Linked DNA regions of Homo sapiens: region 2 is linked to region 1. Evidence: fine-mapped expression QTL. A gene starts in region 1. The other region holds a variant in brackets. All regions are shown on one strand. Distances are from middle to middle.

The links. PIP is the estimated chance that this variant, and not a neighbour inherited with it, causes the effect. A credible set is the group of variants that fine-mapping cannot tell apart.
Region 2: its variant is the best candidate, but not a certain one, in a credible set for the expression of SQLE in blood mononuclear cells (TOPMed, PIP 0.74).

What each region holds. Positions count from the first base shown.
Region 1 is chr8:124,995,183-125,000,562 of GRCh38, reverse strand. SQLE (squalene epoxidase) reads right to left here and starts at 2,058. Exons shown (of 11, transcript NM_003129.4): 1 at 869-2,058. The coding sequence starts at 1,159. SQLE-DT (SQLE divergent transcript) reads left to right here and starts at 2,365. Exons shown (of 2, transcript NR_134457.1): 1 at 2,365-2,600; 2 at 3,403-3,575. RefSeq lists enhancers at 1,698-1,747, 2,678-2,737 and a silencer at 1,958-2,457.
Region 2 is chr8:125,070,115-125,075,494 of GRCh38, reverse strand. It overlaps WASHC5 (WASH complex subunit 5), which reads left to right. Exons shown (of 29, transcript NM_014846.4): 8 at 384-497; 9 at 2,171-2,342. Among named protein-coding and RNA genes, the nearest start is that of WASHC5, 19 kb to the left of the region's middle. The variant C/T (reference allele first, on the strand shown) is at 2,714.

The DNA.
Region 1 (5,380 bases):
GTGAGGCACGAGAATCGCTTGAACCAGGGAGGCGGAGGTTGCAGTGAGCCGAGATCACGCCACTGCATTCCAGCCCGGGCGACAGAGCGAGACTTTGTCTCAAAAAACAAAAATTTTTTAAAAAGTAAACACCGAATAAAGTTACTCCCATACTTAAAATCCTCCAGTGTTCTTGGGAGAACTCTTGGGAAAAAGCCCGAACACTCATTGCCAACATGCCCTAAATGATCTGGCCTAAACTCTTCCCCCTCATCTTCTCCCAGTGGCCGCCTCTGCTCCCTTTGCAGGAATCCCAACTACACCCTTATTTGAAGACCTGGCCTTTATGTTAGGACATTACTACAAGCATTTACTCAATGCTCCAATATTCGGGGGAGGAGAACTTTGAGCCCAATGCCTCAAAATGTTGAGCATTCTCCTTCTGCCTGCTTTTCAAACTGTTCTGTCACTTTCCCCAGTCAGCTGTCACTTCTTACAAGCAGTGGACTTACCCGCAGCACGTTTCTTTCTTCCTCAGGCACAAATCCAATCCTTACCCAAGAACTTTTTAAAAACTTTTTCATCATGGAAAGTGGTTGTTCTTCTCCTTCAAAATGAAATTCTAACATTTCGTTCCATCTTTCATAATCAAATATCCAACCTCCATCTGAGGCTCAACCAATGCTAAATGAAACAAATGTCTTCACTCATTCTTAAGAAGGTCAAAGATGTAACCAAGGCACAGCAGAGTTTAAAATAAAAAATACATGAGAATGTATACAAGCATCTAACCTGCCGCCTTTTGCAATTCAAATAAAACTTATATTTGAGTGAACCCAATCCTACTCCTAAATAAGACATTCATCTGCCCGCTTTGAAATCAACCTACCCTCCTGGCCTCGAGCTGCTCCTTATTTTCTGATTCAGGGGGGGATTTGGCCCAGAAGAAGCCAATGAAAGGCAGGCCTGAGAGAATATCCGAGAAGAGGGCGAACTGGGAGCCGCTCTGCTGGCGCCCGAGGAGACCCCCGTTTCGGTGGCGACAGCGGTAGGAGAGCACCAGGCCCAGCGAGAGGAACACCAGCACGCACAACAGGACCTCCCTGTTGGCCAAAGTGATGAAGTCCCCGAACTTCTTATAAAAATAGGTGAAAGTGGCAATGCCCAGAAAAGTCCACATGGTTCCAAGGCTTCTTTGGTGGCACCGGTCAAGGCGGAGATTATCTGCTCGAGTGGGTTTAAGGTTCTCCCCAAAATGAGGTACCAAGAGGAGCACGGAGAGCCGGCCAGACTCCAGTAAACAGTGTCCCAGGACGAGAAGTCCGATCAGACCAGTTTTTAAAAATCATATAAAGTTAGTGTAAAAGTATGTGAAGCCAAGTTGTATAGGGCGTAGAAAGCAGTATTTAAAAATCGCCTGCTGGAACAGCTCCCGAGCAGACTCGCTCCTCCTCGCCCAGGAAATCCAGATATTCCCTTTTTTTCTTTTTTGATGGTGTTCCCTGAGCGGTTGCTGCGGGTGATGGATACTCTTCTGATACTGGCTCTTCGTGCTATAATTTCTTTTCTCACCAAGAGCAGGTGCCCTTTCAGAAGGGAATGGGAGTGGAGGGAGGGTCACAGAAACACCTCGGCACTGGGGGAAACGTGGCCTAGCCTCTGGCGACGGCGAGCAGCGGCCGGAAGGCACGGGGGCTGCGGGCCGGCGCGGGTTCAGAGGCTTCTTTTTCCGCGGACGGAGACACTGTACAGCCCAACCTCGGGAAAACGCCAACGCCGACGCCTTCTCCAACAAAAGATGGCCTCGGACTCAAGAGTGCGGCTCCAGGGCAATGCAGCCCCAACCTAAAGATTTAGAGGCCTCCCGTTTCGCTGGCCCCCAGAGCCGCCCACCGCGACTGCACTTCCCCACCGATAAAAGGTGGTTTCCAGGGTACCTCCCTCAGATGGCGGCGGCGGCTCCCGACGGCTTCCTCACCAGCATCCCTCGCGGGCGGCGGCTCTCGCCAGCGCGGCGCGGCCCCAGTAACCAGAGTAACCGTCGCACGCCCCCACTCGCCGCCAGGCTCCACGCGTCTCAGCCAGCTGGGCGGGCTCGGCCCAGACGAGGGACCGGGGGCGGGGCTCAGGCGCGAGTCCGCCCATACCGCGCGCCCCGCGTGCTGCCCCGCCCCCTACCCCTGCTCCTGCCGCCGCCGGCCAATGAGGGCGCGCACCGCGCGGTAGGCCGAGATGGCGCTATGCCGCGTTTGGCCAATCGGAGGCGGCGCAACCTGCGCGGCGACGCCCCGAAAGGCGCTAGGGCGATGTTGCGTGGTGCGGGTTGGGGCGTGGGGATGGGCGCGGGCCGGCTCCGGCGTGGGTGGGGCCAGGGGTCGCCTAGGAGGCGCTCTGGGGCCGGGATCGGCGTCGGGGTCGGGGTTGGGGTTGGTTCACCGCAGCAGCCCCAGCTCCTGCGCCCTCCCTGGACTGAGGTGTGCTCGCTTTGAGGAGAAGCCTGGAGTGATCCGCTGCCTCGGGTCGGAACGTTTCCATTCATTCCGCTAGCATTTATTGAGCGCTTATGATATGTCAGTCCCCGGAGTCCGAAAGAGGAATCAGACACAGCTTCCCTGCCCTGTGTATGTGGAGAGGGCGGAAGGGAGGGCCATGAGTGCGTGGAGAGCCTGACATTCCAGCTGAAGCTGGAAGAATGAGTAGGCTTTTGCCTTAAGAAGAAAAGGAGAGGACGCTCCAGGTGCTCAGGCTAGAGATACACGGATGCGCCCAGCCCGTTCTCTCAAGACCAGAAACGTTGGGGGTGGGGGCTCGGAGGCAAAGAAGTCAAATAGTCGTGTCATAGGTGTCCTGAGAAGGGGGTGGTTAGAGAGGGAGCCATGGAAACCCAAGAGGTGGTCCTTCCCTTGGCCTGGAGAAGTCTGGTGAGGCGCCCAGGGGGAGGTTACACGGTGTCCAGGACAAGCAGTCCGAGGGAGCAAAAGTGTGCAAAAGTCTCGGAGTGAGACAGCCCTTATTCTACTACGATGAAACTTACCTAAAATTTATTGAGGCTTAAGACCTCAGTGTCTTTGCTCATCCTGTTTCTTAACTCTGGACTTCCTTCTTTAACCCCTATGATAATAGGTGCAAATCCCTTCTGCCTTTTGGAGCGTGGCTGCATTGTCACCTCTTCCACCAAATCGCCATTGACCTTCACCAAGTCACATAACTTTATTCATACTTTTTAATCTCTAGATTCCCTAAAGATCTGTGTCTGATAAGATCACCCACAGCACCTAGCACAATGCTCTGCCCTTAATTTATCCTCCATAACATGTATTTAATGAATGATGAACGACACTGGCGCATAAAAGCAAGACTAGGCAACTAGAGTTAGGAGACCCAGATTCTGGCTACCGCTAACCAGACTGTGACCTTTTACAGATGTTACAAGTCACTCTGCCTCTGTGGGGAGAAGGCAACTTCTTCATGAACTCGAACATCCTTTGCAATTCTGTATCAGATACTTGGCAGGGTTTAAAAAAACATGGCACCTCTTATAACTTTTCACCCCCAATATTATGTTTTATCTGCTAATAAAATAATTATTTGGTAAAACACCCGCACAGGCGTTCACTTGACCCTCAAAACAACTTTGATTTTTAAAATGAGGAAAATGAAAATTAAAGAGGTTAAATGGCTTGACTAAATCACAGCTGTGATTAAATCGTAATGATGAAACCAAAAGTCAAAGTCCTGGTCTCCAAATCTTGTGGTTCCCCAGTATGCATAATTATCAATAACTGCCTTGCTTTCCAATACTTTTATTCTTTCTTCTACAATATTCCTCACTGTTACCAGTAAGTTTGGCTGTCTGAACTGACATCAAATTTAAAAGGACTGCAGAAAAGAGAATCAGTTCAATGTATGGGAAATCATTTCCTGAAGAGAATTCTTCAATAAACTGCTTATTGGTATCTGTGAGTTCTGTTTTGTTAAAATAATAGAGGAGCAGCTGACTCTTTTATTATTTTTAAATTTTTGTGACAGAGTCTCGCTCTGTGGCCCAGGCTGGAGTGCAGTGGCGCAATCTCAGCTCACTGCAACCTCTGCCTCCTAGCTTCAAGCGATTCTCAAGCCTCAGCCTCCCGGGTAGCTGGGACTAGAGGCACGTGCCACCATGCCGGCTAATTTTTGTATTTTTAGTAGAGACAGTGTTTCACCATGTTGGCGAGGCTGGTCTCAAACTCCTGACCTCAAGTGATCCTCCCGCCTGAGCCTTCCAAAGTGCTAGGATTACAGGCATGAACCACCAAGCCCGGCCAACTGACTCTTACAGATGGGAATACAGTTATCACCAGGATGGCTGTTACCTGCTAACTCTGTACTCAAGATTATCATAAAAGGAATTTTTCTTATTAAGTAGATAATTTTTTAATCTCTGGAAAGCGACTTTCTTCATATGTTTTTATCTTCACAAAGTCATTCTTACAATGTCAGGTCTGAATCCTTTAGGCAGTTCAAGATCCACTTCTGAATTTGGGGCAAAAAGAGCACTTGTAATACCTACCGCAGAGCACACTCTGAATGCCTATATCTTCTGAACTGAATTAAATGTTATATAAGCATTGCTTAAGTATTTTTGAATCTTGCCATGGTTCATTTATTCAAAAACAAATCTGTCATTGAGACCTGAAGGGAAAGCAATGAAATGTGAGACAAAATCAGCTGCTTACTGGCAGAAAGCCATAATGCTATCAAGTAGGTACATGAGAAATACTTTCGTACAAGAGCTCACACATATAGTACGGGTAGCATTCTAAATACTTTTCATATATTAGCTCGTTTTGGCTTCCTGACAACACTTTTAGGGAGATACTACTTTTTTTTTTTTTTTTTTTTTTTGGAGATGGAGTCTCGCTCTTTCACCCAGGCTGGAATGCCGTGGCCTGATCTCGGCTCACTGCAACCTCCGCCTCCCGGGGATCAAGCGATTCTCCTGCCTCAGCCTCCCGAGTAGCTGGGACTACAGGCGCAGGCTGCTACGCCCGGCTAATTTTTGTATTTTAGTAGAGATGGGGTTTCACTGTGTTGGCCAGGCTGGTCTCCAACTCCTGAGCTGAGGCAATCCGCCCGCCTCGGCCTCCCCAAGTGCCAGGATTACAGGCGTGAGCCACCACACCCAGCTAAGATACTATTTTTTTAGCCCCATTTTACAGACAAGAAAACTCATGCACAGGGAAGTGATCACAGCTAGTGACTAGCAGAGTCTGAATCCAAGCCCAGAAAATGTATGTGAGGAATTTAGGAATGTGTGACTTGATTTTTCTCCCCACACAAAGACCTAGTTATCTTGAAACAAACAAGCACATCTGATCTCTTTTTTGCTTAAGCTTTTGAGTTTTCACTGTTAGCCTAGTTT
Region 2 (5,380 bases), 75 kb before region 1:
CCAATTACATGAAACCTGTAAGATACACACCTGAAAAAATACCCTAGCACAGTGAAAATGAAGGGATTTTAAAAAAAGATATCCCAGGCAATTGCCAACCAATAAAACAACTGGTGAGAAAACATTAATATTACACAATAGAGAATTTCAAAAAGCAACGTTAATAGGTGTAAAGAGATCTTTATACCTATTAACGTGAATTAACAATCAGGAACACTTACTTAACAATCAGGAACACTTACCTATATATTTGGAAAATCTTGGTTTTTCATTGGAATGGAATTTAAACATGGAGTGGGTATTGCCTTCTATAACTTTAGTATTCAACCCTTTGCCTTGAAGTGAGTAGGAATTTAACAAATTCTGAATGTCTCCTCTTTCAGGTAATTAGTATTTACATGGGGATCACAGTTAATCTAGTAGATGCTTGGGAACCTTACAAAGCTGCAAAAACTGCTTTAAATAATACCCTGGACCTTTCAAATGTCAGAGAACAGGTAGGTTCTAATCTGGGGACATTCTCTGATAACTGCAGGCCTAGTTTATGAAGTAGCAAATAAGCTAAGTAGATTTCCCAAGGAATTTGGAAGATAATCACTTAGATAATTTAATGCAATGATTAATAAAAGGTGAATTTTATAGGTTAGAATAAGATAGGTAATTGTAGGTTTTGTTATATAGTATATGTAAATTGAAGATTAGGATCCCAAGGAAGAGTCAGTACCCTAAGACAAAGAAGCATGGCATATGCCCCAAATGACTTAGTTTACTTTTGCTTAAAGACTATATTCTCATGGCCAGAGTTGGTTGTACCAATAGCTGGAATTAATATGTTTTTATAAGTAGGATGAATGATGAAGATGATAACTGAATATGGATAATATGTCCTGTCACTGTAATTTAAATTTATCATTTGTGTTGTGCTAAATAAGCAACAAGACTCAAGACATTCATCTTAAAGGTTAAACGGTTATATTCTATCTCTTTTGTTCTTACACAAGGCAGAAGGGAACATCCAAGTAAGTAGAGGAATAAAGATAAAATCTTGGGGAGCATACTTGATATTTCTAAATGGTTATGTTCCTCATCCTGGCTCAGTTACTGAGTTTCCTGTGTGGATAAAACAATATTGACTCAAAAAACTTCATCATGTTTTATTCAAGTAAATTGAATTCCATAAATAATGCACAAAATAATTTCAATGTTGGCACATCTCCTAGAAATATATTAGAGAAAGTGGCACTTTTATACTTAGCAACATCAGATCATTAATTTTTCATTGCTAAAATCCCTTTCTAAAATTGCATTTTCTCATTTGTGACATTTTTAAGAGGTTTCTTGATACCACAGATTTCAACTAACTTGATGAGGTTAATGATGTTTAACATTTGACTTCCTTTAAGTAAAGCAGAATGACCAAATTTTCCAAAAAGCTGGTTTGGAAATTCATTTTTGATATACTAAGGTGTATTTTTTGCTAAGCTTTCATAAGCCTGTAGAAGAAGTCTTATATTTTAAGTGTTTCTGCTCTGTTCTGCCTTCTTTGTCAACAGTATTAGCAAGAACAAGCAATTGAACTTCTGTCTTTATTTTCTTTTTCATCTAAGTTAATAATAGAAGAGTTCTGAGGAACCACCTGGTCCAAGTCTCCGTTTGAAATTTGAAGAAACCAATACACAGGGGTTAAGCCCCAAGTCACACCAAAGTTTAATCACAGCCAGAACTAGGATGTAGTCTCAGAATTCTAAGTCCAGTGCTTTTTTCAAATATGTTCAATAAGCCAGTTGTCTTTGAGCCCAATAAGTATAGTCCATATGTTATTCATCTTATATAGAAATGTTATCTTTGAGCCCTAGAACTATAGTCCATATGTCATTCATCTTATATAGAAATTACATAAAAATGTTAATGTTTGAGCCCTATAACTGTAGTCCATATGTCATTCATCTTGTACAGAAATTATATAAAAATGTTAAAGTTTGAGCCCTATAACTGTAGTCCATATGTCATTCATCTTATAGAAATGTTATCTTCGAGCCCTATAACTGTAATCCATATGTCATTCATCCTATATAGAAATGTTACTATTTGTCAGTGAATTCATTTGAATGTGATTTATTTTCAAGATAAATGACTTTTTAAATGTAATTCAAGTTTCTTATTTGTCAAGGCAAGCAGATATGCTACTGTCAGTGAAAGAGTGCATGCTCAAGTGCAGCAATTTCTAAAAGAAGGTTATTTAAGGGAGGAGATGGTTCTGGACAATATCCCAAAGCTTCTGAACTGCCTGAGAGACTGCAATGTTGCCATCCGATGGCTGATGCTTCATACAGCAGACTCAGGTAATGCACAAAAGGGGTGGCCGTTTATATTACTCCACATAAAGACTCTCAGAATCAGGACCTACTTCACGATGCAGAGTGGTTTAGCAGGGAGAGAGGCCTTGGATGAGAATCAAGTTGCTTTTTAAAGTTAGTCATTTTTTGTCAACTTGGATAGGCCACTAGCATACCTGAAAAGCTCTCCCCTGTCAGGTACTGTTAGGTGCTAGGGAATAAGAGGATGTTTATCTCTCATGTTCAAGGAGCTTGTCACTGATCAGAATGGGGAGATCAAATGTAGACATATGAAAAAATAGAACTGCAGATCTGTGGTAGGCAGAATAGTGCCTTCCAGCCCACACCCAGAGATGTTCATGCCCTAGTCCCTGAAC[C/T]GGTAGATATATTACATGAAAAAGGGGGATTGAGGTTGCCTATTAGCTGACCTTTAAGGAGATGTTTCTGGATTATCCCAGTGGACTCAGTGTAATCATAAGGGTCCTTGCTGTGTGTGGTGGCTCATACTTGTAATCCCATCACTTTGGGAGGCCAAGGCAGGAGGAGAGCTTGAGCCCAGGAGTTCAGAACCAGCCTGGGTAACACAGTGAGATCCCATCTCTACAAAAAGTAAAAAAATTAGCTGGGCATGGTGGCACACACCTGTAGTCCCAGCTACTGGGGAGGCTGAGGTGGGAAGATCACTTGAGCCTGGGAGGTTGCAGCTGCAGTGAGCCAAGATCATGCTACTGCACTGCAGCCTAAGTGACAGAGCAAGACCACGTCTCAAAAAAGAATAATAAAATAAGAGCCCGCCCCCCCCCCCCACTTTTTTTTTTTTTTTAAGACAGGATCTCAAGTTCCCCAGGTTTGAGTGCAGTGGCACAATCTCAGCTCACTCAGACCTCCTGGGCTCAAGCGATACAACTTCCGCAATCCCCGCAAGCAGCTGGGACTACAGGTGTGTGCCATCATGCCTGGCTAAGTTTTTTGTATTTTTTTGTAGAGACAGTGTTTCACTGTGTTGGCCAGGGTGGTCTCAAACTCCTGAGCCCAAGCAGTCTGCCCACCTCGGCCTCCCAAAGTGCTAGGATTATAGGTCTGAGCCACCATGCCCAGCCTGTAAATATAGGGGTCCTTAAATCAGGAAGAGGGAGGTAGAAGTGTCAGAACCAGAGAGATAGCATTGTGACAAAAACCTGACTGGCCATTGCTGGCTTTAAAGATGGAGGGGGCCACAAGCCAAGGAATACAGGCAGCCTTTAGCTGCTGAAAACAAGAAAACAGACTTTTCCCCTAGAATGTCCAGAAGGAGCCCAGCGCAGCCATCACCTTGATTTTAGCCCAGTGAGCCCCATCTCAGATTTGTCACTTCTGGGATGGTGAGAGAATAAATTTGTGTTGTTTTAAGCCACTGAGTTTGTGGTAATTGTTAAAGCAGCAGCGGGAAACTAATTCAAGGTCCAAGGCAGTAAACAGACACCAGGTGTGTCAAACAGACAGTTGGTGTGATTTGAGTTCAGAGTAGAGAGGGAAACATTGCTTGGGATAGGGGAGCAGAGGAGGTCAGGAAACCCCATACAGGAATCAGGAGCCAACCAGGCGTGTGATGAGGTTTTGAAGCAAAAAGCAGAAGAAATTCTAGACTACAGAAATGATGGAATAAGTGATACGATTTTGAAAGTACAGAAAAACATATGGGCCCACTGAGTTGATGACCTGGCTGGACCAGAGTGCTTATTTAAGGTAGATTGGATCTTAGCTTTTTATGAGTCATGGTCTCCTCCGAGACCTTCTGTTCACACAGTTTGACCATCAAGTTCAGATTGTGAGAAATGCTTCAACCTCTGGTTTAATGGTAGAAAAATAAGTAAGTTGAATTAACATCTCTGAGCTTGTTCAGGGCTGGCACAGTTTCTTATTCTTCGTAAATGCTGGATCAACACTAATTAACCAATGCATTCCCTCATCCAGGACTGTATACCCCTACCCCTAAGAGGTGTGTCATTCAGCAGGCCTGTGAAGCCCTCTGCTTTTTGTTTTTCACTCAACAAACTTTCCTTGAGGACCAACTCTGAGACAGGCACTGTGTGCAGCACTTCTTTGTTCTTCCAGATAAGACTGTGTCTCTTTAAAAAACTGTGCACACAAGACTTCTCTGTAGCCTTCCTTTGTAACATGGTAGCCCCTGTCTCACAGCTCTTCCAGCCAAGATGACTTCACAGTCCTTCTAGCTACCGTCTGCTTCCACTTCCTATGGGTGGTCCACAGTGAAAACAGCAGTTGGACTTCCTCATCCTTCGTATCTTTGAAAATGTGTGGAGTTTCCCCTCAGCCTTCTCTCCAGCTTCTTAAACCTTTATCCTGAGAGCTGCTTTCCAGTTTGTTTCATCATCTTGTTTGTTGGCCTATATCCATTTACAATTTACCCACAGTATGAACACGATGGCTGAAGTTTTTAATCCCTGAATCTGTTTTTAATTAGTTGAGTTTATTTTTTACATAAACTCCAGTTCTAATTTGAGGATTTTACTACATTGACTCAGCTTTTAATCTTCTTTACCAAAAGTCTTGCATTCACAAGCGTATAAACAACTCAAGCCCTCACTTTATCCTGTCATAAAACCAACTGGGGTTTTCTAGTGACTCAGCCTCATCTTCATCTTCTGTGTGACTCTGCCTGACGGCCCTGTCTATGTTCGGAAAGCCGGCAGTCTCCTGAATTCGCACCCATGCCAGGGACAACCTTGGCTTGCCAGAGGTCTGTGGTTTTATCTTCAGCCACATTTGTCTTTTGCGTTTGTGCCTGGCAATTGTCTGACCTGATTGCACAGGGTCGTAATTTATCAGAAACAAATGATTGACCTATCTGATTGTGAGTCACACATGGGAAAAGCAACTGCTTAGTTAACTTTTGTGGAATTTCAGTCATGGTGTTCAGAAAAGCAGGCCTAGTCTCATTGCCTCCTGTTGAGTTGCTGGAGGCATTTCCCAGTCTTAGGATGCTTGTACAGAACCTTGTAAAGAAATATTCTCTGAGGAAATAAGGGATGAGAAAGGCTGGC